Homo sapiens: one gene and its partner. The protein of the gene in region 1 purifies or fractionates together with the protein of each later gene. This does not show direct contact. Each region holds a gene or a part of one and is shown on either strand. Other genes may lie near its edges. The genes, in order: TTC27 and ECD.

The links.
Region 2: the proteins of TTC27 (region 1) and ECD purify together in Homo sapiens (affinity purification with mass spectrometry; 2 studies listed by BioGRID and IntAct, with this or other methods). This does not show direct contact.

Annotation. Positions count from the first base shown.
Region 1 is NC_000002.12:32,620,746-32,636,524, forward strand, and holds the start of TTC27 (tetratricopeptide repeat protein 27), read left to right. Parts: upstream 1-7,304; 5' UTR 7,305-7,547; coding exon 7,548-7,635; intron 7,636-9,777; coding exon 9,778-9,955; intron 9,956-13,130; coding exon 13,131-13,260; intron 13,261-14,509; exon of another isoform or gene 14,510-14,586; intron 14,587-15,779.
Region 2 is NC_000010.11:73,142,883-73,158,182, forward strand, and holds part of ECD (protein ecdysoneless homolog), read right to left. Parts: intron 13,774-15,300; coding exon 13,686-13,773; intron 13,572-13,685; coding exon 13,393-13,571; intron 11,567-13,392; coding exon 11,374-11,566; intron 9,540-11,373; coding exon 9,411-9,539; intron 8,824-9,410; exon of another isoform or gene 6,837-8,823; intron 6,730-6,836; exon of another isoform or gene 5,588-6,729; intron 5,523-5,587; coding exon 5,394-5,522; intron 3,480-5,393; coding exon 3,394-3,479; intron 1-3,393. UniProt on the Homo sapiens protein: Regulator of p53/TP53 stability and function. Inhibits MDM2-mediated degradation of p53/TP53 possibly by cooperating in part with TXNIP. May be involved transcriptional regulation. In vitro has intrinsic transactivation activity enhanced by EP300.

The DNA of each region.
Region 1 (15,779 bases):
CATGATGGCCCACACCTGTAATCCCAGCACTTTGGGAGGCTGAGGCGGAATGATTGCTTGAACTCAGGAGTTTGAGACCAGCCTGGGCAACATGGCAAAACCCCGTCTCTACAAAAAATAGCAAAATTAGCTGGGCATGGTGGCACATGCCTGTGGTCCCAGCTACTCGGGAGGCTGAGGTGGGAGGATTGCTTGAGCCCAGGACATGGAGGCTGTAGTGAGCCTAGATCACGTGACTGCACTCCACTGTGGGCAACAGCAAGACCGTGTCTTAAAAAGAAAATTAATGGATGTTTTTAACCCATCTCTTACTGTTGGACAGTTTGGAATTGCTTTTGTCTCTGCTTTTCTGATTATAACTAATGCTGTGATGAGCATGGTCTTATCTTTATTTTCTTATGATAAATCCTAGAAGTAGAATTCCTAGGTCAAAGGTTTTGATATATAATGACCGCTTTCCTGAGAGGTACTGATTCACACTTGGAAAATCTTTTAGTGTTGTCATGCGTTGGCCAGCATTGGAGATTATATAATTTTTTGATCTGATATTTTATTATCATCAAACATGTTTTAATGTGCATTGAACATTGTTTATATTACCCATTTGAATTTCTACTTTTGTCAGTTACCAGTTTATACCTTTTCCCTATTTTGTGTATTTTCTTAGAGTCTTTTAGTATGTATCAGCTACTTATAGTAGAATATTAGTTTTTGTCAAACTTCTGTGTATTTGTCCAGATGGCCTTTTAATTTTTGTTTAATTTTTCTCATAGAAGTTTTAAATTGTGGGGCCGGCCGGGTGCAATGGCTCACTCCTGTAATCCCAGCACTTTGGGAGGCTGAGGTGGGTGGATCATGAGGTCAAGAGATCGATACCATCCTGGCCAACATGGTGAAACCCCATCTCTACTAAAAACACAAAAATTAGCTGGGCGTGGTGGCAGGCGCCTGTAGTCCCAGCTACTTGGGAGGCTGAGGCAGGAGATTTGCTTGAACCCAGGAGGCAGAGGTTGCAGTGAGCCCAGATCGCACCACTGCACTCCAGCCTGGTGACAGAGCGAGACTCCGTCTCAAAAAAAAAAAATTTAAATCGTGAAGTCATCTATTGATCTGTTCCTTTCTGATTTTAATTGCATTTTATTCCTTTGAAGTTATTCCCTATGCAAAGGCAAAAAAAAGGCTATATATTTTCTAACTGAGATTGATTTTTGGTATTGTTACAGGCTTCGCTGCAACTGAATTGCAACAGGCTTGAGCTGCTTCCCATCTCGCACCCTGCAGAGGCAGGTATGGTGGTGACAAGCCAGAGTCCACATGTGGATGGAAGATACAAGCCATGTTGAAAGGAAGCTCCATCCTGCTTTCTCTTTCCTCTTCAAACTCTGCCCAGTTTCTAGCAGCCATCCAAGCCTCCTTTCTCTCAGCTTCTAGCCTCCTGATGCTTCAAGCTCTAAAGGGGCTGACGTGAACCCTGTGAGCCTATACATTTCCTGTATAGAAGAGGCATTCTCTGGCCTTCTTTCTCCCTTAGTTCCTGGATGTGATCTCGTAGTGCTCCCATGAGCTCCACCAAAAGTCTGCTTTCCATTGCTTCCTTCATGTGTGTCCCTCTTCAGGTTGCACTAGCTGTTTTCCTGTGCAGGAAGAGACTGCAGCCCACCACCATTTTAATTGTTTTCAGTTTTATTCACGTCTCACTTCTCCAGGGAGGGAATACCCAGTCCAATTATGTCAGCTGCAGGCTGCCCTGGGCCGCTGGGAGACCTACGGCCTCAGGTTAGACACTTCTGCCTGCTGGGGTCCCCAGGATACTGCCCCTCCCCACCTCCCTGTACTCCTCTGGGTCAAAAGGTAGACAGGCATTTCCCTCGTTCTTATTCCTACCACTTCTGTTCCTTGCTGTTGCTTTCCCCCAGCCTTTCTATAGGTTTTGTTCTTTGGTTTATTCCTTCCCTTTTTCACCTTGCTGTCTGCAAAGTCAGCAAATGCAGCCATAGAGTGCCTTCCAGCTCTGGAGCTTTTCTCATCTTTAGAGGAACCAGCTAGAGCTCCTCTGTGCCGCCTTTCTGGGAGCTGCTATTTTTGTTATTGCCCTTCTTGCCAGATAAGTATGAGATTTCCCAAGCCTGGCCAATTTTCAAATATTTGTCCTGTTGGGTTTTTTTTTTTCTTCTCTTTTTATAAGACTTTGTCAGAATTTTTTGATATAAATTCACAAATGAGAAAAAATATTTTTTCAAGCCCAAATCACTCATATGTTAGTTTTGGTTTAAAAAAAAAAAAAATCTTCCCCCTGGTTGTCTCCATACCCCAAAGGTAGCAGTTACTTCCTGAAGCAAGGCAAATACTTCCTTTGACCCAAAGGGCAAAGTTAATCTCCCAAAGGAGTTTAGCAAGGGAGAGCTTAGAAAGGCCTGAAGCTCACCTACCCTTAGGTGTCATTTGTAAATGCCTCTTTACCAAGGAAAGATAGTGCCTTAACTTGTTCTGAGCACTTGTACCTGCTCTGCAATGTGCTGGATTCTTGGGATAAAATGTCATGTAAGAGTCTGACCCTACCCCCAGGAAGCTGTCAGTCTAATGAAATAAATAAATAATATTCATCATTTCAATTGTATTTTGGGAGTCTTCCAGTTATCACCAATTTCAGTCTCTGAGCCGAAGCGATCACCTTAGATTGTGAGCCAAGGAAGGACAGATCCCTGAGAAGACTTCATGCAGCTCTAGGAAAAGCCTATACTCTTCAATCATCTGGCTTCTGATTTCGCAATGAGAAAACTATACCCTCGTCTGCCTCAAACGAGGAACCCCTAATACTTAGCTAAGAATTGCTAACATTTTTTGGTATCTATGTCCTAGACCCTATGTTTAGTACTTGATAACTTAATCTCTATCAGTTGGTCTCAATTTGCCAACTGCTAGGGAAAAAGCATCACACTATGGAGATACGGAAGCATACCAACTACCCCTCCCTTCAATCAGCCTGCCCTTGCTTCTAGCAGGTGACCCCCACCTCACCCCATCTTCTATTTTTCTTTTCTTTCTTTCTTTTTTTTTTTTTGACAGTCTTGCTCTGTTGCCCAGGCTGGAGTGCAGTGGTGGGATCTCGGCTCACTGCAAGCTCCACCTCCCGGGTTCACGCCATTCTTCTGCCTCAGCCTCCCAAGTAGCTGGGACTACAGGCACCCACCACCACGCCTGGCTACTTTTTTGTATTTTTAATAGAGGTGGGGTTTCACCATGTTAACCAGGATGGTCTCCATCTCCTGACCTCGTGATCCGCCCGTCCCGGCCACCTGAAGTGCTAGGATTACAGGTGTGAGCCACCGCGCCCAGTCCTCAGTATACTCAAACAATAGTTCCCCTCTTCTGTTAGTATCTGTTAGCACCTATGAGACTTAAGATGTAAAACTTTTTTTTTTCTGAGACAGAGCCTCGGCTCTGTCGCCCAGGCTGGAGTGCAGTGGCATGATTTCAGCTCACTGCAACCCCTGCCTCCCGGCTTCAAGCGATTCTCATGCCTGAGCCTCCCTCCCGAGTAGCTGGGATTATAGGTGTGCACCACCACACCCAGCTGGGTCTTGCTTTGTCGCCCATGCTGGAGTGCAGTGGTGCAATCTCGGCTCATTGCAACCTCCACCTCCCGGGTTCAAGCAATCCTCCCACCTCAGCCTCCCTAGTAGCTGGGATTACAGGCGTGTGTCATCACGTGCAGCTAATTTTTTTATTAGAGACGGCGTTTCACCATCTTGGCCAGGCTGGTCTCAAACTTCTGACCTCAGGTGATCCGCCCGCCTTGGCCTCACAAAGTGCTGGGATTACAGAAGTGAGCCACCACACCCAGCCATGTGTTTGAACTAATTCTGTCTCCTATCTTTTTAAGTGGTGAAAGGGAGGCTGGATTTGTCATTAGCTCAAGCATAAGGAAGTCAGGATTGCGAATAGCATTTCATGACCCTTCCATCTCCTTTCATATTCATTAACAGAGCTCACATTTAATAATAATTTTTAACAGTGTTTGCAAATGTTTGTGGCAGCTTTATTTGAAGTAGCCAAAAACCGGAAACAACTTCAACATCCCTCCACAGATGAATAAATAAACATTGTGATGTATTCATACAATACATACTCTTCAGTTATATTTTTTAAATGAACATTGATACGTACTATATAAGAATATCAAAATAATTATGCTAAGTGAAAGAAGCCAGAAAAAAAGTATATACTGTATGATTCCATTATATAAATCTAGAAAATGCAAACTCATCAATAGTGACAGCAGATCAGTGGTTGCTTGGAGTGTAGAGGATGGGGATGGCAAGAGGGCCGGATTATAAAGAGGAACAAGGAAACTTTGAGGAGTGATGGATGTGTTCACCGTCTTGATTGTGGTGATGGTTCATGGGTACATACCTAAATTAAAACCTAACAAATTGTACAGTTAAAATATGTGCACTTTATGCCAATTATACCTGAATAATGCTTTTTATAAAATTGTTGTATGAAGCTTAAAATCTGGTCTCCCAAGACCAATATTCTCCAGAAGGCTTCTCCTGACATAACAATTCTTCCTTCTTCTGACACCGTTGGTCCCCTGCTCTTTCCAAACCCTGTGTGCCTCGGAACAATGGCCCTGCAACCACCGCTTTCCTTCAGAGAGTGAGCCAGTCCTTGCCCTGTGCTTCCTTCTAGTCAGTGCAACCAAACTCTGATCTGGTCCTCCTTGACCCCTCTGATGCTCCCATGGCACCATTATTTTCTCCAATCTCCTAGCCTCTTGTAATACTTGTTGAATTTACATCTCCAGCCATCCTCCTTCCTATTTTTTCTCCTTTTGGAAGAAACGATGCAAAACCTTGTTTCCTTGTCACACAGTATTTCAAAATAGAGGTGTTATAATTGTATTTATTTTTTACTGTAGACCAAACATTACTATAAACATTTAGCTAGAATCACTAGTTTAGAGAAGATGAGATTTTGTAATAGGTTGGGAACTACTTGACATAAGAGACGAGAAAGGAAACAACATGGATTAGAGGCATAAAATAAGCCAAGGATAGTCCTAAATTCTGTTAAAAGTATCTCTCACTTACCTCATTCTTAGTCTTGAATATGGAGACTTCTGGCTTTCTATCTCCACTGGGCCCTGGAACTGTGGCAGCCAGAGCCTCACCTTCCAGGTAGGAGATTTAAAGAGTCTTTTGGAGAAATCTGACCAGCCCAAGAAAAAAAGACTTTTAGATAGTGACATACAGGATCCCAATAGACTCGTCAGCCAAGGCATTCTATACTGAATCCTACAGTAGATATTTCATTGCCTGCTCAATTTCCACTCACTATGTACATATTTTTAATCGAGACCATATTCCCCACCTACTTTATTACTGGAATTCACTTTGCTTGAAGGGAGATTAGGCAGACTTCAGTCACCATCATCATCTAGCATACCACATTTAAAACAAACCAACCTTGAATTTAACTGAAAGTTGCAAGTTTACTATGTGGATTAACGGGGTGCTACATACAGGTGAGGAACTTTGGCAGAGCGGCCAGTGTGTTTTTACAGACGTTCATCTTTAACAATTATCAAATTAGTTTAGACAGTGCTGGCTTTTATACTTAAGGAAATGAACAGACAACCTGGTCAAGTATCATTTTCTAGAAAAATAGTGGGGTTTTTTTTGTTTGTTTATTTTTTTGAGACGGAGTCTCGCTCTGCTGCCCAGGCTGGAGTGCAGTGGCGCGATCTTGGCTCACTGCGACCTCCGCCTCCTGGGTTCAGGCCATTCTCCTGCGGCAGCCTCCTGAGCAGCTGGGACTACAGGCGCCCGCCACTACGCCCGGCTAATTTTTTAAAAAAATATTTTTAGTAGAGATGGGGTTTCACCTTGTTAGGCAGGATGGTCTCCATCTCCTGACCTCATGATCCGCCCGCCTCGGCCTCCCAAAGTGCTGAGATTACAGGCGTGAGCCACTGCGCCCGGCCTGAAAAACAGTTTTTAATTACTTCTCAGTGGGAGGACATTTTAGGGCATCCGCTCTTCTCCAATCACAGTCAGGTCCGGCTTCCTTTGGTATCTGATGGCAATGGCTGAAATGAGCTGAGCTGAGTTCCTCTCCCTTCACATTCTGGAGTGGCTCTTTACTGAGTAAGAAAGTGAATTAACATTTATTTAGCTTCTTCCTTGGAGCTGGGTACCGGGTCAGCCTCTTTTCAGAGAGCTTTTGCTCTTGTGGTCAGAGTTACCCTGCAGTTTTCTCCTGGCTCTTACATGACATATCTCAGTACAGGTGTCAAGCCAATGGGACAAAGCCATAGTCCTGTTTTCCTTCCCTCCTTCCCTCCCTCCCTCCCTTCCTTCCTTCTTCCCTCCCTCCCTCCCTCTTTCCTATTGCCCAGGCTGGAGTGCAGTGGCACCATCTCAGCTCACTGAAACCTCCGCCTCCCGGGTTCAAGCAATTCCCCCGCCTCACCGTCCCGAGTAGCTGGGTTTACAGGGGTGCCCCACTACGTCCGGCTAATTTTTGTATTTTTAGTAGAGACGGGTTTCACCATATTGGCCAGGCTGGTCTCGAACTCCTGACCTCAGGTGATCCATCCGCTTCATCCTCCCAAAGTGCTGAGATTACAGGCGTGAGCTACCGCGCCCGCCCTCTAACTGTTTCTTTGGAGTGCTGCTAGGAAGATTCAAAGAAGTGCAAATAAGGTACCAGCGGAGGCTGGTTTGTCTCCTTGCAATTTCTTTGTGATCACCCCTGGGATCACTCTTCTACAGCGTTCCGACAGTGTTCCAAAAACTTCCCTGCACCAGCGGCAGGGGCAGATTTCCCACCCGGCCATGATTCATGTAGAGCAGTGTCAAAACCAGATCCTTTCCTTACACGCTCATTCGCCGAAAGACCCATGCTATGCTGACGGGGTTCCAACCTGGGCTTCACCGACTCCACGTCAGAGGGTCTGTGATTCCCTGAGAGGGTACCCTTAGGCTGAGAGCAAGGGCCCACCTGCACTCTGCGCGAAGGACTGTGGTTTTCATCGGGTTGTCGAGAGCGTTCTAACCCAAAATGCTTTAAGAATCACAACTCTAGCCCTTCTAATCAAACTGCTTTGGCCAAGACGTCCGTTTTGAGTTGCATTTGAACCCTAGCCCTCGGTGGGAGGCACACTCACTTCCACGTTCACAGTTCTTGGAAGCGGTCCCACTGGGGGCGGGGCTGAGCGCGACCGCGCCCTCAACTCCCCCTATTGCCCGCCCCGGGGTGGGGCATAACCACCCAACAGGCTCCTTACTCAAGCTCGGGTTCTTCTCCTAGGCGGAAGCCAGACCAGAGAGCGTGCGTGTTTTTCCCAGGGTGCCCCGCGCTGCTGTTATGGCCGCCTCCTTGAGGTAGTATCCGCACATGGAATTCTAGGGCCGCAGGTGTATTTACGGTAACTGTCGCCACTAGATTTCAGCGCCTTTGGACTCTCCTGTTTTCACTTTCTTTTGTTGACTCCCGTGTGGCCCTCGTGGGAGCCTGTTTTGGCTGCAGCGGTGTCTGGGGTGATGTGGACCCCGGAGCTGGCAATTCTGAGGGGATTCCCCACTGAGGCTGAGCGGCAGCAATGGAAACAGGAGGGGGTCGTCGGTTCAGGTGAGAGGCGCACCTACCGGGCCTTAGGCTATCGTGGGAACTGTGAGGAAAAGGGATGGCAGCGACTGATTCTCATCCCTCCCTTCATTTTTCCCTAACACAGTCTAGCTGATTCCTTGAGGCTTTGGGTCGTTTAGTCTTTGACATGGTGGGCGTGGTCCTCACTTTCTTTGCGCAAAACTTCTTACCGCCCAGGTTCAGTAATAATGACAATGGCAATGTCAGTTATTTTTCTAAGCCCTTAACATGTACTCAGTCATTTAATGCTTATAGTAGATACTTAAGGTAGATTCAATTTTTAATCCCATTTTGCGGTGAAGATCTGTAAATACAGTTGGGTTAAGTAATTTTATTTTATCTATTTATTTATTTATTTATTTATTTATTTATTTATTTATTGAGACGGAGTTTTGCTTTTTGCCCAGGCTGGAGTGCAATGGCGCGATCTCGGCTCGCTGCAACCTCCGCCTCCCGGGTTCAAGTGATTCTCCTGCCTCAGCCTCCAGGGTAGCTGGGATTACAGGCATGCGCCACCACGCCCGGCTAATTTTGTATTTTTAGTAGAGTCGAGGTTTCACCATGTTGGCCTAGCTGGTCTGGAACTCCTGACCTCAGATGATTCGCCTGCCTCAGCCTCCCAAAGTGCTGGGATTACAGGCCTGAGCCACCGCGCCCGGGTCTGGTTAAGTAATTTATTTAAGGTCACACTGTTGGTAAGCAGAGGAGCTAAAATGAGGCAGCAAAGTTGTTTTTTTGGGGGGATGGAGTCTCCCTCTTGTTGCTCTGGCTGGAGTGCACTGGTGCCATCTCGGCTCACTGCAACCTCCGCTTCCCCGGTTCAAGCGATTCTCCTGCTTCAGCCTCCAAAGTAGCTGGGACTACAGGCATGCACCACCATGCCCGGCTAATTTTGTGTTTTTAGTAGAGACGGCTTTCATCATGTTGGTCAGGCTGGTCTGGAACTCCTGACCTCAGGTGATCCACCCGCCTCGGCCTCCCAAAGTGCTGGGATTACAGCCATGAGCCACCATGCACGGCCTAGGCGGCAATGATTTATTTTTTTTATTTTTTTGAGACAGAGTCTCGCTCTGTCGCCTAGGCTGGAGTGCAGTGGCGCGATCTCGGCTCACTGCAAGCTCCACCTCCCGGGTTCACGCCATTCTCCTGCCTCAGCCTCCCGAGTAGCTGGGACTAAAGGCGCCTGCCACCACGACCAGCTAATTTTTTTTTTTGTATTTTTAGTAGAGACGGGGTTTCACCGTGTTAGCCAGGATGGTCTCGATCTCCTGACGTCGTGATCCACCCACCTCGGCCTCCCAAAGTGCTGGGATTACAGGCATGAGCCACCGCGCCCAGCCTAGGAGGCAAAGATTAATTCTTGTGAGCAATGAATATTTACCAGAGAGATAAAGAGTTAAAAGGCACATGCACTGGCACATCTGGTTGTGGGATTTAGGCTGGACCCAAAAGAGTAATAATGAACAGTGTAGTGTGTAAGTACTCTGTGTGTATGTGTGTGTGTGTGGGCACTTGTGTGACACAGTAGGTGCTTCCAGTGACAGGAAGTTTGAACTTTGGTGGCCTGGAAAACTTTCCTAGAAGAAGTTAGACTTGAGCTGATTTTGGATTAAAGGGTAAGACTAACAAGTGGAGAAGAGTTCAACAGGCGATATCACAAGTGCAAAGTGTGGAGGCAGGAATACGCATGGGACATTAGGGAAACAATGAGTAAACCAGCGCTCTTGGAGTGACTTTTCAAGAAGAGAAAATAATGGAGGTAGAAAGAACCAGATTGTGAAAAGTTTTAGAACCTTGACTAAGGAAACTTTTGTATTGTCAGTAGGAATCTTTGTGAATTTCCCAGCAAAAGACTAAATACCTATTAATGAGGAATATTATTTCTGGGGCTGACTTCCACTTTGGGGCTCATAGTCAGTATGAGTGAGCTGCTAATTCTAGGAGAGAGAATGTTTGTAGAATGATGGAAATTTACTGAGTGCCTTGTGACTGACATACAGTAATCATTCTAAGTCTATAGATTGTTTTTGCACACTAAAATGGTAGATTTACCTAATAGTGTTATCCTTTACGGTATGAAAAATAATTTTTTTTGGATTACCGCACTAATTTTTTATATTACAGAGAGTGGATCTTTCCTACAATTGCTACTGGAAGGGAACTATGAAGCCATATTCTTAAATTCAATGACTCAAAATATTTTTAATTCAACAACAACCGCTGAAGAAAAGATTGATAGCTACCTGGAGAAGCAGGTAGTAACATTCCTGGATTACTCAACAGATTTGGACACAACGGAAAGGTAGAATTTTATTTGAAATTTTCATAGAGGAACAGAGCAAATACATTTAATAGCACCTTGACAGGGTAAGGCCCTGATTTTAGCAGTTGAGAAACCTTGCCTTATATTTTACTCAAGACTCATGGTGTACCAAGTAATCTATGTAAAAACTCATCCAGAAGTCCATCCAGAATGAAGAAGTAAAGTGGTGCAGGATAAAATGGTTTCATATATGAGACTGGCACATATTTTGGTGTTAACTGCAAATGCTTAGGTCTGGTCGGCTTTACCCACCGGCAAAACTTCAGACCTTATTTCCTTTAACTTAAAAACATACTTTCAGGCTGGGTGCAGTGCTTCACGCCTGTAGTCCCAGTGCTTTCGGAGGCCGAGGCGGGCGGATCACATGAGGTCAGGAGTTTAAGACCAGCCTGGCAAACATGGTGAAACCCCGTCTATACAAAAATACAAAAATTAGCTGGGCATGGTGGCATGCGCCTGTAATCCCAGCTGCTAGGGAGGCTGAGGCCGAAGAATCGCTTGAACCTGGGAGGTGGAGGTTGTAGTGAGCCAATATCCCGCCATTGCACTCTAGCCTGGGCGACAGAGCGAGACTCTGTCTCAAAAAAAAACCAAAAAACAAAAAACATACTTTCAATCTTGTTATTTCTGCATAGCTGAGTGCTAATTTGTAACTATTTATTATGTTTTAGATTATTATCTTTATAGAGCTCAGAGAACTTAATGTTTTTGTAAGGAAGCCCTTGGTTTACCTTCTTCCATTAAAGTTTGTGTAATTTTATAGGGTTAAGTATAGCAGATAGTTACACAGCAGGGAAACCTAAGCTTTTCAGTGGCTTATATTTCATTGTTATAAATTTGATACCTCTATCTTTCGTCTACTATCTGTGGCAACCATGTCAAGCTTTAATTATCTTATAAATGCATGCAATTTTATTTTACCATTATTTCTAGGAAATAGCTTCATTTAGTCCTTCAACAAATAAACTATTGTAGTAGATGTGGAGGTTCTGAGGATGAATAAAGCATAACCCATATTCATAAGGAGTTTGCAAAAGAATGCTACTACAGGCTTTTAATTTTATTTTGAAAATTAATATTATTCATTTTCTTTTTTCTTTTTTTTTTTTGATGGAGTATCACTCTGTTGCCCAGGCTGGAGTGCAGAGGCGTGATCTCGGCTCACTGCAACCTCCGCCTCCCAAGTTCAAGTGATTCTCTTCCCTCAGGTTCCCATGTAGCTGGGATTACAGGCCTGTGCCACACCTGGCTCATTTTTTTTGTATGTTTAGTAGAGATGGGGTTTCACCATGTTGGCCAGGCTGGTCTTGAACTGCTGACCTCAGGTGATCTGCCCACCTCGGCCTCCCAAAGTGCTGGGATTACAGACGTGAGCCACTTCGCCCAGCCTCCATTTAATTTTTTTTAGTTTACTGGTAGTTATGTTCCTTTGGTATCATTCTTTTTTTTTTTTTTTTTTAGTTCCTTTTTGTAGAGATGGTGTCTTGATATGTTGCTCAGGCTGGTCTCGAACTCCTGGGCTCAAGCAATCCTCACCTCTGCCTCACTAAGTGTGGGGATTATAGGCATGAGTCACTCCGCCCGGCTGGATTCTCATTGCTTTCTTATATGTGTGCACTCTCATAGCAACTAGCCTTGTGGCACCCATTAAAACAACACATTCACACAAATGCATTATTCACTGATATACCAGATTTCTATCTTGTCACATAAAGCTAAAAAGAGACATTTCAGTTGACTCATTTTCAGACATTTGAAAGTTAAAGTGTATTTTCAGTTCACCTTATGGATTTTGTTTTTTGATTAGGACAGTTTATTAAGGCTGTTTTCTCCAAATTTCCAAACTTCTGATTGCATACCAGCTCTTTTGTTATCTTTTTTCTCTAATGCTGCTTATTTGCATTGCATCCAGAGTTTTATATTTTTGCTACCATAGGCTTGTATGTTTGATTTTTTTTTTTCTTTTTCTGAAAGACTCTTCCTTTTAAGGAAGGGCCTAGGGGCTGTGGGGAAAAAAGTGATTACTAATACTTTCTCTTCAGAATGAAACTCCAGGATTCCCTGGCTGTTATTTGCTAGAGTTGGATCTGTACCTATTTAGATCCTAATTTAGGGTTTGGCACATTATGGCTGGCAGGCTAACTAAGTGGCTAAGAATTAATGGGTTTTACATTTTTAAAGGGTTGGAAAAAAACAAACATGATATGCAAAGCCTAAAATATTTCATATTTAGAAAAAGTTTGCCTATCCCTGTCTCACATCACAGCAAGACTGAAAAATAGAGTTTTCACTAAAATATCTATATGTTTTGTTGTTGTTGTTGTTCTAGCATTTGGTGGTATGGGATTGGTAAACAATTAGCAACAACTTTATATCATCACTTTTCTTTTGTATAAAGTCAGTTTTCTATACATCTTGCAACATCAGAGCTGTTAAAGGGAGTGCAAGAAAAACTTATAGATGTCTGATCAGAACCTAAATCAACACCGTTCAAGATAATTTTCCGTGGAGATAGAAGTGCTCTCTATCTTCATTGCCCACATGGTAGCCACTAGCCACACTTAACTATTGAGCACTTGAAATATGGAAAGTATGACTAAGGAACTGAATTATAAATTTTATTAATTTTAACTAATGCAAATTTAAACCATGTTTGGCTCGTGGCTATAATATTGGATATTGTAGACCTAATTTCTTTTTTTTTTAAGAGAGACAGGGTCTCGCTTTATCATCTAGGCTGGAGTACAGTGCTATGATCAAAGCTTACTACAGCCTCAAACTCCTGGGCTGCAAGCAATCCTCATGCATCAGCCTCTTGAGTAGCTGGGATGTACCACCATGCCGGCTAACTTTTAATTTTTTTGTAGAGACAGGGTCTCACTATGTTTCTCAGGCTGGTTTTGAACTCCTGGGTTCAAATGATCCTCCTACCGTGGCCTTCCAAAGTGCTGGAATTACAGGCATGAACCACTGTGCCTAGCTAACCTAAATTGTTTTAAGTTTTAGAAATTTTTTTTTTTGGTAATACTCTAGGATAGTCTCAATAAATGTTGATAGATATTATTTTCTTAATAAAACTGAAATGGAATAGTGTGTTTGAGATTATACAGTGATAGTAGTTCATATTTATTTCTTTAACCATTCTTATATGCAGACAACAGTTGATATTTCTACTTGGTGTGAGCAGTTTGCAACTTTTTGTTCAGAGCAACTGGACGGGGCCCCCTGTTGACTTACACCCTCAGGACTTTTTGTCATCTGTTTTGTTCCAGCAATTCAGTGAGGTATGCTTCTTGAAAATGTTGTATGTAATTATTATTATGTTATTTATTTTTTATAAGCAGGTCTTTATAAACTGGAACTCATAGTAGGAAAGAAACATGACTTTATGGTTTGCACAAAAGTACTAAGAATGCTTGTTCATTGATCAGATTTTCACAGATTTCCAGAAGTTCCTTTGTCAAACTCCTCTTCATACACACTCCATTTTATGGAGCTGTGTTAGCTGTGTTTTTTAATGAAAGTACAGACAGCTGCACCAGTTGTTTAGTTGGTTGTATCACCTCAGTTACATAAAGATTTTTTTTTTTTGAGATGGTATCTCACTCAGTCATCCAGGCTGTTGTACAGTGGCTGGATTACAGCTCACTGCACCCTCAACCTACTCAGGCTCAGGCGATCTTCCCACCTCAGCCTCCCAAGTAGTTGGGACTACAGTTGCATGCCAACATGTCCAGCTAATTTTTTTGTAGAGATGGAGTTTTGCCATGTTGCCCAGGCTGGTCTGAAACTCCTGGGCTCAAGTGGTCTGCCTGCCTCAGCCTCCCAAAGTGCTAGGATTATAGGTGTGAGCGCTGTACATAAAGATCTTTAATGGCAAAGCAGCAAATCTGGAAATCTGTTTAATTTTATTTCAGGTAAGTTTTTAACTAATTAATTAATTAATTTTTTTTGAGACAGAGTCTTGCTCTGTCACCCAGGCTGGAGTACAATGGCGCGATCTCAGCTCACTGCAACCTCTGCCCCATGGGTTCAAGCAATTCTTCTGCTTCAGCCTCCCTAGTAGCTGGGATTACAGGCGTGTGCTACCACACTTGGCTAATTTTTGTATTTTTACTAGATGTGGGGTTTCTCCATGTTGGCCAGGCTGGTCCCAAACTCCTGACCTTAAGTGATCCTCCCACCTCAGCCTCCCAAAGTGCTGGGTTTACAGGCGTGAGCCACCATTCCCGGCTTGCAGGTAAGTTTTGATACTGTACTTAAGAATGGCTCCCAGGAGTGGTTTGCTCCCAGGGGTGGCTTTAAATTACAAATACTTTATTAAAGTTTCTGGCACAGCATTGCTTCATGGTGATTATTATCCATTGTGAAGATAATATTATCGATCTGTGCCAGTGTGTCGCCAATAGAGCTTGCAGTTTGAGTTCCTCAGGAATCTTGAGCTCCTATATAGAGGGTCTGGCTAGTATGAGATGATCTACAAAAGAAGTATGGTTTAAATCAAAGTAAGAACTTTGATTTATCCAGCCACTTTGGTGATTTTGAACGTAGCTATCCACCACTCAGCCTGGAAAAAGCTGAGTGATTGATAGCTATGTTCAAAATCACCAAATTGTATCCAGAACTCGTGCAGCAAAACAGACCTAGTGTTACCTGGTTTCTCAGAATTAGGTGTAGCAAGTAGGCCGGGCACAGTGGCTCATGCCTGTAATCCCAGCACTTTGGAAGGCCAAGGCGGGCGGTTCACGAGGTCAGGAGTTCAAGACCAGCCTGATCAACATGGTGAAACTCCGTCTTACTAAAAATACAAAAATTAGCCGGGTGTGGTGGTGCACGCTTGTAATCCCAGCTACTCAGGAGGCTGAGGCAGGACAATTGCTTGAACCCGGGAGGCGGAGGTTGCAGTGAGCCAAGATCACGCCACTGCACTCCAGCCTGGGTGACAGAGTGAGACTCCATTTCAAAAAAAGAAAAAAGAAAAAGAATTGGGTGTAGCAAGTAAATGTGGAATAGAGTTATTAGAGATATGTGTTAATAATTTGATGGGGGGGTAGAAAGAGAAGAAGTGCAAAAACAAGCATAAAGTGAAAACCACAATAATTAACTCTTTGCATATCAGCTTAGTGAGTCACTATATATACTTCATTAGAGTAATTTTAATCCATAATGCTGATCCTAATTATAACTGAAAGGTTAAAAGATGTTTTGTGTCTTATGTCTATGAAGGGAATTTATAATTTATATTCTACAGAGGTTTTCATCCAAAATGGGAGTAAAAAAACCCCAAACCCTAAATGATTGTAGCAGTTAAAGAGATAAGCTTCAGTTATCTAGAAATGTACTTAGGAAACATCTCATTCCCTCTCTTATTATGTATGAATCAGTTTCTGGCTTCTATGGCCCTATAGTATAGATTAGAAATCCACCAAACAGCCAAAGCCATAAATATCTCCTGAACACTGATGTGTGGTTTGAATGGTACTTAATTCGCATTTCTTTTTTTTTGTTTTGAGACGGAGTCTCACTCTGTCGCCCAGGCTGGAGTGCAGTGGTGCGATCTCGGCTCACTGCAGTCTCTGCCTCCCGGGTTCAAATGATTCTCCCACCTCAGCCTCCCAAGCAGCTGGGACTACAGGTGCTCACCACCACGCCCGGCTAATTTTTGTATTTTTAGTAGAGACGGGGTTTCACCATGTTGGCCAGGGTGGTCTCAAACTCCTGACCTCAGGTGATCCACCCGCCTCGGCCTCCCAAAGTGTTAGGATTATGGTGTGAGCCACTGCGCCTGGCCTTAATTCACATT
Region 2 (15,300 bases), on another chromosome or scaffold:
CTTTTCAAAGAAAACTTCCTTAGAAAGGCCTTCCTTGACTAATCTATCTAGAAGAGCAGTCTCTACCCCTCTACCCCACACACTGCTTTTTCTTCATAGCACTTACCACCCCCTAATATTACATAATGGCTTGCGGTCTTTCTCCTACATTAGCATGTAAGCTCTATAAGGACAAGGACACTTTGGGTTCATTTATTATATCCCCAGTACCTGGAATAGGGCCTGGCACATAGGAGGCATTCAATAAATATTTGTTGAATAAATGAATATATATGTATCTATAAATAATGTATTGTTTTGTTTTGAGACGGAGTCTTGCTCTGTCACCTAGGCTGGAGTGCAGTGGTGCGATGTCGGCTCACTGCAACCTCCACCTCCAGGGTTCATGCGATTCTCCTGCCTCAGCCTCCCGAGCAGCTGGGATTACAGGGGCGTGCCAACACGCCCAGCTAATTTTTGAATTTTTAGTAGAGACAGGGTTTCCCATATTGGCCAGGCTGGTCTTGAACTCCTGACCTCGTGATCCACCCGCCTTGGCCTCCCAAAATGCTGGCATTACAGGTGTGAGCCACTGCGCCCAGCCTGTATAGTATTTTGTATATTTAAAATTTTTATATGTGTAACATCCACACGGTATATATTTTATTCTTTTTCATTTTCATTTTTAATTTTTGTGGGTACATAGTAGGTGTATATATTTATAGGGTATATGAGATGTTTTGATACAGGCATGTAATGTGAAATAAGTACATCATGGAGAATGGGGTATCCATCCTCTCAAGCATTTATCCTTCGAGTTACAAACAATCCAATTACACTCTATGTTAAATGTATAATTAAGTTATCATTGACTATAGTCACCCTGTTGTACTATCAAATAGTAGGTCTTACTCATTCGTTCTATTTTTTTTTTTTTTTGGTACCCATTACTGTACGTATTTATAACTTGCTTTTTTTTTTTTTTTCACTGCATTATGTTTTTGAAATCTATTCATTTAGATCAGTGGTTCCCATTTAGATCAGTGGTTCCCAACCAGGGACGATTTTGCCGCCCAGGTACCTCTGGCAATGTCTGGAGACATTTTTGGTTGTCATGATTGGGGGATGAGGGAGAAGTGCTATTGATATTTACTGGATAGAGGCCAGGGATGCTGTTAAATGTCCTATGAAGTGCAAGCCAGTCCCTCACAATAAATTATCAGATCCAAAATGTCAGTAGCACTGAGGTTGAAAAATCCTAAATCAGATATATGTAAATATAGTTCATCTCTGGTTAACTACTAGATAGCAGGCTATCATATAAGTACACTGCAATTCATTTATCCATTATTGATGGATACTTTGGTTGCTTATAATTTTTCACTATTACAATCTCTGATAAATTAGGGGAAAGTCTATGATATTATACGTAGGAGCTAAAAACAATTCTAAACTGAGAGACAGAGAGCAGAATAATGGCTGGCTGGGTGCAGTGGCTCACACTTGTAATCCCAGAACTTTGAGAAGCCAAGGTAGGGGGATCTCTTAAACCCAGGAGGTCAAGATTGCAATGAGCTATGACTGTACCACTGCACTCCAGTCTAGGCAACAGAGTGAGACTCTATCTCAAATAATAATAATAATAAAAGTAGAATGATGGTTACCAGAGGCTGGGAAGGGTAGCAGAGAGCGGGGGGAAAAGAGGGGATAGTTAATGGTTACAAAAATTAGTTAAATAGAAGGAATAAGAGCTAGTGTTTGCTGCTCTGCCTATGGAGTAGCCATTCTTTATTCCTTTACTTTCTTAATAAACATACTTTCACTTTACTCTATGGACTTGCCCAAAATTCTTTCTTGCATGAGATCCAAGACCCCTCTCTTGGGGTCTGGATCTGGAATGCTTTTTAGTAACATCTTCCTGGCAAATCCCAAAAAATATTTTTTAAAAAATTAAAAAGAGCTAGTGTTTGGTAGCACAACAGGGTGACTACAGTTAATAATAATTTATTATATAGTTCCAAATACCTTAAAAAAATGGAATAACTAAAAATATTCCCAACACAAAGAAATGATAAATGCTTGAGGTGATGGAAAGCTTAATTACCCTGATTTGATCATTATACATTGTATGCCACATGGACATTATACATGTAATCACATGTACCCCATAAATATGTACAACTAGTATGTATCCACAATAATTAAAAATAAAAAATTAATGGCTGGGTGCATTGGCTCACGCCTGTAATCTCAGCACTTTGGGAGGCCAAGGTGGGTGGATCACCTGAGGTCAGGAGTTTGAGACCAGTCTGGCCAACATGGTGAAACCCCATCTCTACTAAAAATACAAAAATTAGCCAGACCTGGTGGTGCATGCCTATAGTCCTAGCTACTTGGGAGGCTGAGGCAGAAGAATCACTTGAACCCGGGAGGCAGAGCACTGCACTCCAGCCTGGGTGACTAAGCGAGTCTCTGTCTAAAATAAATAAATAAATAATAATAACAATAAATGAAAAAAAGTGAAAATGAAAGGTAAATCTAAAATAAAAGTCTACGATATTAATTCAGCTATTTTAAAAAAACCACAAACTTTGGGAATTCAACAACAGGTCTGGAGGGAGATGGAAGTTTGGTTTTAAACTGTTTAAAAATTATCCTGGTGTGCAGAATGGGAGCCTCTCCTGCAACATAAATTAAAATGTTGGACATTTAAGCTACTTGTAATTTTTTCCCCAACAGTAAAAAATAGTTGAGTAAATTATGGGGGTACATCCATTTGCTGAAATATTGTGCAGCTTTTTTTTTTTTTTTTTTTTGAGATGGAGTCTCGCTCTGTCCCCAGGTGCAATCTCAGCTCACGGCAACCTCCGCCTCCTGAGTTCAAGCGATTCTCCTGCCTCAGCCTCCCTAGTAGCTGGGACTACAGGCACGCACCATCATGCCCAGCTAATTTTTGTATTTTTAGTAGATACGGGGTTTCACCATGTTGACCAGGATGGTCTTGATCTTTTGACCTCGTGATCCGCCTGCCTCGGCCTCCCAAAGTGCTGGGATTACAGGCGTGAGCCACCGCGCCTGGCCATATTGTGCAGCTTTTAAAAATTATGTTTATAAAGACTTCATAATGCCATGGAAAATGTGATATCATGATGAGTAAAATTACATAGAGGAGGATGCAAAATTTCTTTCGTTGTTTTTTTTTTCTTTTTTGAGGCAGAGTCTCACTCTGTCATCCAGGCTGGAGTGCAGTGGTGTGATCGCTTGAGCCCAGGAGGCGGAGGTTGCCAGCCTGGGTGACAGAGTGAGACTCCGTCTCAAAAAAATAAATAAATAAGAATAATAAATAATAAATAAAAAATAAAAAGAACTACCTAAATACCAATCTTTGTAGTAGGAGTCTTAACAATAACTCACCTTTCTGGCCAGTCTACTGAGAGCTGGAAGTAATTCTCTGCCATTTCTAGCCTTTCCCGGTACTGAGCAGAACCTTCTATCAGTCCCTTAAAAAAAAAAAAAGGTCTATCAGAACATTACTCACAAGTTGTCATGAAAAAAATGTGTTCACCAGCAACTTTCAGGGAGGCAGCAAATAATCTACTACTCAGGAATCACGTGCCCCAAGTCCTAGGCCCTGTTTTATCATTAATGGGCCTGTTTGAGCTCCAGTTTCTTCAAATGAGGGGACGCGGCTAGATGTAGTGATTCCTAATCTTTTCCACCATTAAGGGCCTATTTCCAGTTTGGAAAGTTTTCCACCATTTTCTTTTACTTAATTACTTATTAAGATATAATTGGCTGGGTGCGATGGCTCACGCCTATAATCCCAACACTTTGGGAGGATGAGATGGGCAGACTGCTTGAGCTCAGGAGTTCAGGACCAGCCTGGGCAACATGGTGAGACCCTGCCTCTATGAAAAAAAAAATTAAATTAAAGATATAGCTGATTAACTAGTAATTCACAAAACAAAGTACAGAAAGTTTGCCAAGTAGAATAAAAAATGGCAAAATCCCACCATTACTATCATTTGTGTTTTCTAAATGCATATTTATAGTGATAGTCATACTTAGTATTTTACATTTTTTAAGAATATACTAGCTGGGCACTGTGGCTCATGCCTATAATCTCAGTACTTTGGGAAGCAGAGGTGGGAGGGTCACTTGAGGACATGAGTTTGAGACCAGCCTGGGCAACATAGCAAGACTTCGACTCTACTAAAAAGAAAAAAAAACAATCTTTAGCCAGGCAATGGTGGCACATGCCTAGTCTCAGCTATTTGAAAGGCTGAGGCAGGAGGATCACTTGAGCCTAGGAGATCGAGGCTGCAGTGAGCTATGATCCTACCACAACACTGGCTTGCGTGACAAAGCAAGACCCTATACAACAACAATAACAACAACAGTAATAGCTGGGCACGGTGGCTCACGCCTGTAATCCCAGCACTTTGGGAGGCCAAGGCGGATGGATCACCTGAGGTCAGGAGTCCGAGACCAGCCTGGCCAACATGGTGAAACCCCATTTCTACTAAAAATACAAAAATCGGCTGGGTGTGGTAGTGTGGGCCTGTAATCCCAGTTACTCAGGAGGCTGAGGCTGAGGAGAATCGCTTGAACCTAGGAGGTAGAGGTTGTAGTGAGCCAAGATTGTGCCATTGCACTCCAGCCTAGGCGACAAGAGCAAAACTCCATCTCAAAAAAAAAAAAATACCATATATATACTATAATATCATTAGTACTTTTCGTATTGCTGTGCCATCTTTATCATCATCATATTCTTCGGGACTTTTCCACTTCTTGGATATTTCCTTTAAAAAGATTATTCAAAGTGAAGGTTCCAAGTTTGAACCTTTCTATACCTCTTGGAAGACACTACCAAATTACTTTCCAGTTAAGATTCTACCAGTTTGCAATGTTACCAGCAAGGTATAGGAGTGTTATTTTTACCATACTCTCGACAGCACAGAATATCATTCATATCCTTTTGTACATACATGAAAGACATTCTTCATTACTGTGTTCATATATATATATATATATCTTTACTACTTGTGAAGTTGAATATTTTAAGAGAAATTTACTAGGTATCTTTTAATAATTTTTAAAATCCACATCTTTGCTAATTTTCCTATCTGGTGTTTTCATGTTTGCATTATCAAGTTTTTGCAAGTTGTTTTATCTGGTACAGATAATCACTTTCATCATTTAATACCAACAGTGTTAGTTTTTCTCTAATACTGGAAACAGTTCATAGATACCTCCTTCATTAGCACCTGAGTACCACTGAACTAGAAAGGTCTCCTTTAAGTCTAGCTTCCATAATTATGTCATACATTTAAATATGGACTATAGGACTTTAAGTCGCTGGCTTGATTTTCCCTGGATTGAATACTTAAAAGCAAATATATTGCAAGTCCTACCTTAAAGTAATCATTCTTTTTCAGACTTTCAAGGAAACTGGCCCAGAGTGGTGAGGCAGTCACAAGGGATTTCTTGCAGTCAGAAAAATGTGGGCTACATTTGGAGCATAAGATCTCAAATCCATGAGCCTAGATGAGATAGGTAGAATTTTTGTTACTAAGTTCCTTTTTTCCCGTATCTTATTATAACACATTACTTTTTTTCCATTGAGCCACACTCTAGAACTAGATGACTGGATACATGGGCATTTGGACAATTATAACACTTTTTGAATTTTATGAAAAATATAAACTTATTCCCAAGTTTCTCAATCATTATAGATTACTAAAAACATAAAAGGAAAGAAAATAATATACAATAAAGATTCCTGTTCTCTTCAAAGAGATTCCTTTTCCTGCTGATTACAAAACCAGAAATTTACATTTATTTTTTGTTTGATTATGAACAGGGTTACAAAAGGTTTCTTGTCCAACAGAAATTATACATATATTGAACATGATCTCAGACATAGTAAAGAGAGGAAATCACTTCATTTTAAAAGTCCTTTGATTAAAAAAAATAATAGATGCACATGGCTAAATAATTCAAACAGGGAGCTTCCCTGATCAAGCTAGAGAACACCATTACCAACTTCTTGCACATCCTTTCAGAAGTAACCTACACACTGAAGTATTATGTGTGTGCCTCTCTGTATGCATAGCTTTCTACTCCACCCCTTTTGTTGCTCAATGGACGCATACACACTACTCTACACCTTGCTTTTTACACTTAACCATATACCTTGGAGATCACTTACATGAGCACACACAAATTCATCCATCTTACTTCATGGCTAGAGCACAATTTATCTAACTATTCCCCTACTAATGGACATTTAAGTAGTTTCCAGTCTCCTGCTACTATGAACAATGCTGTCATGACTATGCTCCATATATGTCCTTGTATATAGGTAAAATACATAAAGAATCATTTTCTAGAAGTGAAAATGCTGACTAAAAAGGTTTGTGCATTTTAAATGTTGATGAATACAGATGGTCCCCAACTTATGATGGTTTGACTTAACATTTTTTGACTTTATGATGGTGTGAAAGCAATATGCATTCAGTAGAAACCTTACTTACAATTTTTATCTTTTTGCAGGCTAGCAATATGCATACTGTCTCATGATGCTGGATACACAGTGGCAGCAAGCTGCAGTTGGCAATGTGATCACAAAGGCAATCAACCAATACTGTACTCTATAGTATACTGTATTCAATAAATTACATGACATATTCAACAGTTTATTATAAAATAGCCTTTGTGTTAGATGATTTTGCCCAACTGTATGCTAATGTAAGTATTCTGAGCCCATTTAAGGTAGGCTAGGCTAAGCTATGATGTTTGGTTGGTTAGCTGTATTAAATATATTTTTGACTTATGATATTTTCAATTTTTGACAGGTTTATCAGGAAGTTACCCCACTGTAAGTCAAGGAACATCTGTTTTGCCAAAATGTTCTCCTAAGGGATACAATCAATTTATATTCCTATCAACAATGTCTGAGAATGTTTTTCTGTATATATTCTCAACAACCCAGTATGTATTATCAAGCCGTTTGATACTTGCTAATAAATGATGAAAAACACTATTTTGAGGAAGAATCAATATCGTAAAAATGGCCATTCTGCCCAAGGTAATTTATAGATTCAATGCCATCCCCATCAAGCTACCAATGACTTTCTTCACAGAATTGGAAAAAAACTACTTTAAAGTTCATATAGAACAAAAAAAGAGCCTGCATTGCCAAGTCAATCCTAAGCCAAAAGAACAAAGCTGGAGGCATCATGCTACCTGACTTCAAACTATACTGCAAGGCTACAGTAACCAAAACAGCAAGGTACTGGTACCAAAACAGAGATATAGACTAATGGAACAGAACAGAGCCCTCAGAAATAATGCCACATATCTACAACTATCTGGTCTTTGACAAACCTGACAAAAACAAGAAATGGGGAAACGATTCCCTATTTAATAAATGGTGCTGGGAAAACTGGCTAGCCATATGTAGAAAGCTGAAACTGGATCCCTTCCTTATACCTTATACAAAAATTAATTCAAGATGGATTGAAGACTTAAATGTTAGACCTAAAACCATAAAAACCCTAGAAGAAAACCTAGGCAGTACCATTCAGGACATAGGCATGGGCAAGGACTTCATGTCTAAAACACCAAAAGCAATGGCAACAAAAGCCAAAATTGACAAATGGGATCTAATTAAACTCAAGAGCTTCTGCACAGCAAAAGAAACTACCATCAGGGTGAACAGGCAACCTACAGAATGGGAGAAAATTTTTGCAATCTACTTATCTAACAAAGGGCTAATATCCAGAATCTACAAAGAACTTAAACAAATTTACAAGAAAAAAACAAACAACCCCATCAACAAGTGGGCAAAGGACATGAACAGACACTTCTCAAAAGAAGACATTTATGCAGCCAAAAGACACATGAAAAAATGCTCATCATCACTCGCCATCAGAGAAATGCAAATCAAAACCACAATGAGATGGTAATCTCACACCAGTTAGAATGGCGATCATTAAAAAGTCAGAGAACAACAGGTGCTGGAGAGGATGTGGAGAAATAGGAACACTTTTACACTGTTGGTGGGACTGTAAACTAGTTCAACCATTGTGGAAGTCAGTGTGGCGATTCCTCAGGGATCTAGAACTAGAAATACCATTTGACCCAGCCATCCCATTACTGGGTATATGCCCAAAGGATTATAAATCATGCTGCTATAAAGACACATGCACACGTATGTTCACTGTGGCACTATTCACAATAGCAAAGACTTGGAACCAACCCAAATGTCCAACAATGATAGACTGGATTAAGAAAATGTGGCACATATACACCATGGAATACTATGCAGCCATAAAAAATGATGAGTTCATGTCCTTTGTAGGGACATGGATGAAGCTGGAAACCATCACTCTCAGCAAACTATTGCAAGGACAAAAAACCAAACACCGCATGTTCTCACTCATAGGTGGGGAATTGAACAATGAGAACACACGGACACAGGAAGGCGAACATCACACACCGGGGCCTGTTGTGGGGTGGGGGGAGGGGGGAGGGACAGCATTAGGAGATATATCTAATATAAATGACGAGTTAATGGGTGCAGCACACCAACATGGCGCGTGTATACGTATGTAACAAACCTGCACGTTGTGCACATGTACCCTAAAACTTAAAGCATAATAATAAAAAAAAAAAGAAAATCTAGACATTCCTATCAATGTCTAGATTGTAACATTTTTGAAAGCAAACAAAAAAAAAAGAAAAACACTATTTTGTAGCTTTAAAGTGCATTTCTTTTATTATGAGTTAAGATTCAATATTTTTCATATGTTTAAATTAAAGGTCACCTGTATTTCCTTTTCTGTGGACTATGTTCATAGTTCTGAACATTTTAAAATTAATTGGCTAGTATTATCATTTTCATATTGACTTAAAGGAACACTTTATGTATTAGAGAAGTCAGCTCTTTTTCATTTAGATTGCAAATATAACACTTTTTCCAGATTTGCTTTTGACTTTATTTATGGAGTTTTTCTTTCCCGTGCAGAAATGCTTAATTTTTGCATAATCAAATTCATCAGTCTTCCCTTTATAGCTTCTGGTTTCAAGTCATGCATAGAAAGGCCTTTCCTATTCAAATTATAAAAGGTTCTTGGTTTTTTTTCAAATTGTATAGTTTCAATTTTTATGTTCAAATATTTGATCCAATTGGAATTTATTTTGGTATAGGTATTAGGGAATCAACTTCAATTTTTCAGATGACTTCAGACTTGTCCCATCATCACTTACTAAGTAATCCATTTTTTTCATTCTAATTTGAAATGCCACATTTTACTGCATTCTTACATAAACAGGGTGTATTTCTGGACTTTGTATATTGTGCCACTATTCTATTAAGAGTCCATTTACATAAAGAAAGGAAACAACATTTTCTGGTTCAACATTACCAATTTCATGCCCAATTCATGGGCTCGGTACTGGGGATCAGATGGAGGAGGCAGCCTGTATCCACTCCGCCGGTCTGGCACAAACCTTTGTTGCACCAATTGTGCATATAGACATTTAGTGAATGTGACCTGGGCATCAAGACACAAAATACATGAGTCTTTTCCTGAAATTAAGATTGTGAATAACACTTCACAGTTAAATATAATGAGAAGTCCATTTATAAGCTTCATATTCATATGAAATGCAAAGAAGATTCAACCTATTCATTGCCTACTTGTTTTTAGTAACAGCTTTATTGAGATACAACTCACATACCATAAAATTTACCCTACTGCTGGCCAGGCATGGTGGTTCATGCCTGTAATCCCAACACTTTGGGAGGCCAAGGTGGGCAGATCATCTGAGGTCAGGAGTTTGAGACCAGCCTGGCCAACATGGTGAAACCCCATCTCTACTAAAAATACAAAAATAAGCCAGGCATGGTGGCGCACGCCTCTAATCCCAGCTACTCGGGAGGCTGAAGCAGGAGAATTGCTTGAACCCGGGAGGTGGAGGAAGTTGCAGTGAGCTGAGATTGCTCCACTGCACTCCGGCCTGGGCAACAGAGCAAGACACTGTTGCAAAAAAAATTTTACCCTACTGCCTACTTTTTAGTAATCGCTAGTAAAATTCTTATCATTAGTTACATTATACAGCAATTAAATGGCTGGAAGATAAAGATAATTCATTTTTTCTATTTCTGAGACAGGGTCTTGCTCTGTTGCAGAGACTGGAGTGCAGTGAGCAATCATGGCTCACTGAAGCCTCAGGGATAGGGTTTCACCATGCTGGCCAGGCTGGTCTCAAACTCCTGACCTCAGGTGATCTGCCCACCTTGGCCTCCCAAACCTCCTGGGGTCAAGCAATCCTCCTACCTCAGCCTCCGAAGTAGCGGGGATTACAGGCGCCCACCACCACACCTAGCTAATTTTTTTATTTTTTGTAGCGATGGGGTTCACCATGTTGCCCAGTCTGGTCTCAAACACGTGGGTTCAAGTGATCCACCTGCCTTGGCCACCCAAAGTGCTGGGATTACAGGTGTGAGCCACCATGCCCGGCCAAGAATAATTCTTAATTCTCTGGAAGAGATGAAATGTTTTATTGTTAAGAAGGAAATAATTAGGCTGGGTGCGGTGGCTCACACCTGTAATCCCAGCACTTTGGGAGGCTGAGGTGGGTGAATCACTTGAGGTCAGGAGTTCGAGACCAGTCTGGCCAACATGGCGAAACACCATCTAAAAATAAAAAAATCAGCTGGGCGTGTTGGGAGGTGACTGTAATCCCAGCTACTCGGGAGGCAGGAGAATCGCTTGAGCCCAGGAAGCAGAGGTTGCAGTGAGCTGAGATGGCTCCACTACACTCCAGCCTGGGTGAGAGAGTGAGACTCTGTCTCAAAAAAAAAAAAAAAAAAAAAAAAGGAAATAATTATAGAAATAGAAACATATGGTCAAAAATAGCTATAAAACATTGAGTATAAAATGGGGAGGCAGGTCTCTTGAAAATTTCCTTCACTGGGTGCAAGAAAAGAAAAAACGTGTATAGTTTGAGCATCCCAAATGTAAATATCTGAAATCTAAAATGTTCCAAAATCCAAAACTTTTTGAGTCCCAACGATATGCTCAAAGTTTTGAGATTTCAGAATTTTCAGATTTGGGATGCTCAAGTAGTAAGTTTAATGCAAATATTCCAAAATCCAAATAAATCTGAAATCTGAAATACTTCTAGTCCCAAGCATTTCAGATAAGGAATATTCAATCTATATTAACATGCTATGAAGAAACAGAATATTTCCTTTTTTTTCTAGAGAACAATTAAAATAATGTTTCATTCACTGAGCACTGAGAAATGTAAAAAGAAAAAAATAATAATGTTTCAACTCGGTTTCCAGTAAGAGAAACTAAATGACCAAGATAGAAATCTCACCGATGTCATTATTCGTGTTTCAGGCAAGAATGTCTTGAAAACACGACAAGCTCGCAGGTCAATAGGGTCTCGTAGGTAAAATGCCTGGACTGCTGCAGCCACCAATCTGGGGCGCTGCTTTAGCACTGCCACAATGCCAGCTGGAAGGAAGCAGTGTGCTCGATGAAGTGAGGCCTGAATTTTTTCTGGGTACCTGGGACAGGTAACATAATTACTTTCATTTTACAGTATATAAATACCTATAATTCTTATACCATTCACATTCTTTTTGACATCTCTTTGTTCATCAAGAGCAGTACGTAGAGAGTGACAAGAGAGATGAAAAAAGATACTGTATATACACTTAAGAATATACGAGAGAGGGAAAGAAAAAAGTAGGAAGAAATGGAAAATAAAGAAAAGGGATTATTGTAGCTCTATAAAAACAAAACAACTTTGGGAGGCTGAGGCGGGTGGATCACGAGGTCAGGAGATTGAGGCCATCCTGGCTAACACGGTAAAACCCCATCTCTACTAAAAATACAAAAAATTAGCTGGGCGTGGTGGCATACGCCTGTAGTCCCAGCTACTCGGGAGGCTGACATAGGAGAATCGCTTGAACCCGGGAGGCAGAGGTTGCAGTGAGCCGAGATCACGCCACTGCACTCCAGCCTGGGCGACAAGAGCAAAACTCCATCTCAAAAACAAAACAAAACAAAAATACCTATTATACTTTGGAATAAAGATAAAATCAGAGTTTATTCTTCTAAAAGAATGGTACAAAGTATGCTGAAGCTAAAAGAGATTTTTATTTTTTATTTATTATTATTTTTGAGACGGAGTCTCGCTCTGTCGCCAGGCTGGAGTGCAGTGGTGCAACCTCGGCTCACTGTAACCTCCACCTCCCTGCAACCTCCACCTCCCAGGTTCAAGTGATTTTCCTGCGCTCAGTCTCCCAAGCAGCTGGGACTACAGGGGCCTGCCACCACGCCCGGCTAATTTTTTGTATTTTCAGTAGAGACGGGGTTTCACCATGTTGGTCAGGATGGTCTCGATCTCTTGACCTTGTGATCCACCCGCCCTGGCCTCCCAAAGTGCTGGGATTACAGGCGTGAGCCACCGCGCCCGGCCAAAAATATTTTTAATATTGTTAATACCTGAATGGTGCTTAATATTTAATAGGCACCCAAATTTGAATGGATGAACGAATATGTAATTAGGCTAAGACCTTTCTTTTCTGAATAAAAGCTAAAGTTTTATTCAGAAACTGAATTCTGACATAGGTCAAAGAATCCCATATACAGACCCAGAACAACAGAAAAAACCTGAGCACCTTGTTTGTGCTCCATTAGGTTTCTACTTTTTTTTTTTTTTTTTTTTTTGAGATGGAGTTTCCTACTGTCGCCCAGGCTGGAGTGCAGTGGCGTGATCTCAGCTCACTGCAACCTCCGCCTCCCGGGTTCAAGCGATTCTCCTTGCCTCAGCCTCCAAAGTAGCTGAGATTACAGGCACCTGCCACCACGCCCTGCTATTTTGTTTTTGTATTTTTAGTAGAGATGGGATTTCACTATGTTGGCCAGGCTGGTCTTGAACTCCTGACCTCATGATCCGCCCCCTGCTCAGCCTCCCAAAGTGCTGGGATTACAGGTGTGAGCCATCGCTCCAGGCCCATGAAGTTTCTATTTTTAAAGGTCTCAAATTTTTTACCCATGGATATAGCTAATACTTAGCCACAATATCTAAGGTAAATAAATGCAAAAATATTGGGACAAGATTGTAACACTTCTGAATGGGAATTTAAAGATGTATCTGTTTCCTGATTTTAAAATCTGTAAGTTTAATTTACTAGTCTATTTCATAAAGAGGAATGAAGACAAAATGAAAATTAGCATTAATCTAGGTGAAAGGTATTTTATAGTCAAAGAAAGACTGATCAACTCCAACAGAGCTTTAAGGAAAACAAACAAAAATCAAAGAAAGACTGAACTACACGAAACCAAAAGGTTCCTTAATTAGCAATGAAAGTGATATTTTTCTTACCCTCTGATGCGCCTATTCACAGCAGCTCGTATAGATTCTGAAGCAAGTATTTTTTCTGAATGTGCTGTGATTATATTCAATGCTTGTGGAATTGTTGGGGGTGTGGTGGGTAACCAAGATTCTGCTCCAGATTTTCTTGGTGCAGGGATAATACACAATTCCCCATGGCAGAAAAATACCTGCAAACGGTACATTTCAATTTTCACAGTGGGCACTGGCAAACTGCAGGTACATATGAATGTAATGCAGCATGATTTCATCTCTATAAATTTTCTAAACTTGGGTATACTTACCCTATTGGTGCTATTTTCAGGATCCAGCCATTTAGGGAGAAAGTCAGCAGCTTCTATTAACAAGAATTCACCATCATTGTCTTCAATCCTAATGCAAGAAAATTTCCAATTTTGCATTCAAAAAGCATATATCTGCTAGTAACCAAAACAGTTTCATTCTAATACATTTTCCTCTTCATCTTAGTAAATATTTGAGTATGTACTATGTGCAGATGGCTATAAGAAAGCAAAATATTTAAGATAACATTAAGCACTGAAGGAGACTGTAAGATTGTAAGGAGGAGTTGAAGGTAGATATGATAAGGAGAGAAGATAAGCAATTTACATAAAGAAATATTAGACAAAAATATGAAAATATACGAAAGTACTATAGGGTTCCAAAAGAAAAAAAAGAAACACATAGCTGAGATTAGAAAAGCCTTCATGTAGGAGGTGTTATTTGGGCCTGAAAAGATAATTATTTCTGCCTCATTTGCATCACTTTTTTTTTTTTTATTTTGGAGACGGAGTCTCGCTCTGTCACTCAGGCTAGAGTGCAGTGGTATGATCTCGGCTCACTGCAACCTCCACCTCTTGTTTTCAGGCAATTATCCTGCCTCAGCCTCCTGAGTAGTTGGGATTACAAGTGCCCGCCATCATGCCCAGCTAATTTTTGTATTTTTAGTAGAGACAGGGTTTCGCCATGTTGCCCAGGCTGGTCTCGAACTCCTGACCTCAAGTGATCCGCTCACCTCAGCCTCCCAAAGTGCTAGGATTACAGGTGTGAGCCACCACGCCCGGCCCGTATCACTTTTTTAAATTTAATTTTTTAAAATAGGTTATACATTCACATGGTTACATTTTTTAAAAAAATGTATTAAAAGTTACATGGCCAGGTGCAGTGGCTCACGCCTGTAATCCCAGCACTTTGGGAGGCCGAGGTGGGCGGATCACCTGAGGTCAGGAGCTCAAGACCAGCCTGACCAACATGGAGAAACCCCGTCTCTACTAAAAATACAAAAAAAATCAGCCAGGCGTGGTGGCCCATGCCTGTAATCCCAGCTACTCGGGAGGCTGAGGTAGGAGAATTGCTTGAACCTGGGAGGCAGAGGTTGCGGTGAGCCGAGATCGCACCATTGCATTCCAGCCTGGGCAACAAGAGCGAAACTCCATCTCAAAAAAAAAAAAAGTTACAAAATAAAAAAGTCTCCCTCCTACTTTTGTCCCTATCTGCTCAACCCTACATGCATCACTGCTGTTTCTTGTATATCCTTCTAGAGTTTGCTTACACATAATCTAACTATAGAAATATATACTTGTATTTTCTCCCTTTTTTACACAAGACATGGCATATTTTATATACTGTTATATATCGTTCTAGCTCTATACTTCTATTTTTATTATTTTATTTTATTTTATTTTATTTTATTTTTGAGACAGAGTCTCACTCTGTCGCACAGGCTGGAATGTAGTGGTGCAATCACACTCACTGCAACCTCTACCTCCTGGGCTCAAGTGATTCTCCTGCCTCAGCCTCCCGAGTAGCTGGGACCACAGGCATGGGCCACCACACATGGCTAATTTTTGTATTTTTAGTAGAGATGGGGTTTCACCATGTTGGCCAGGCTCGTCTCGA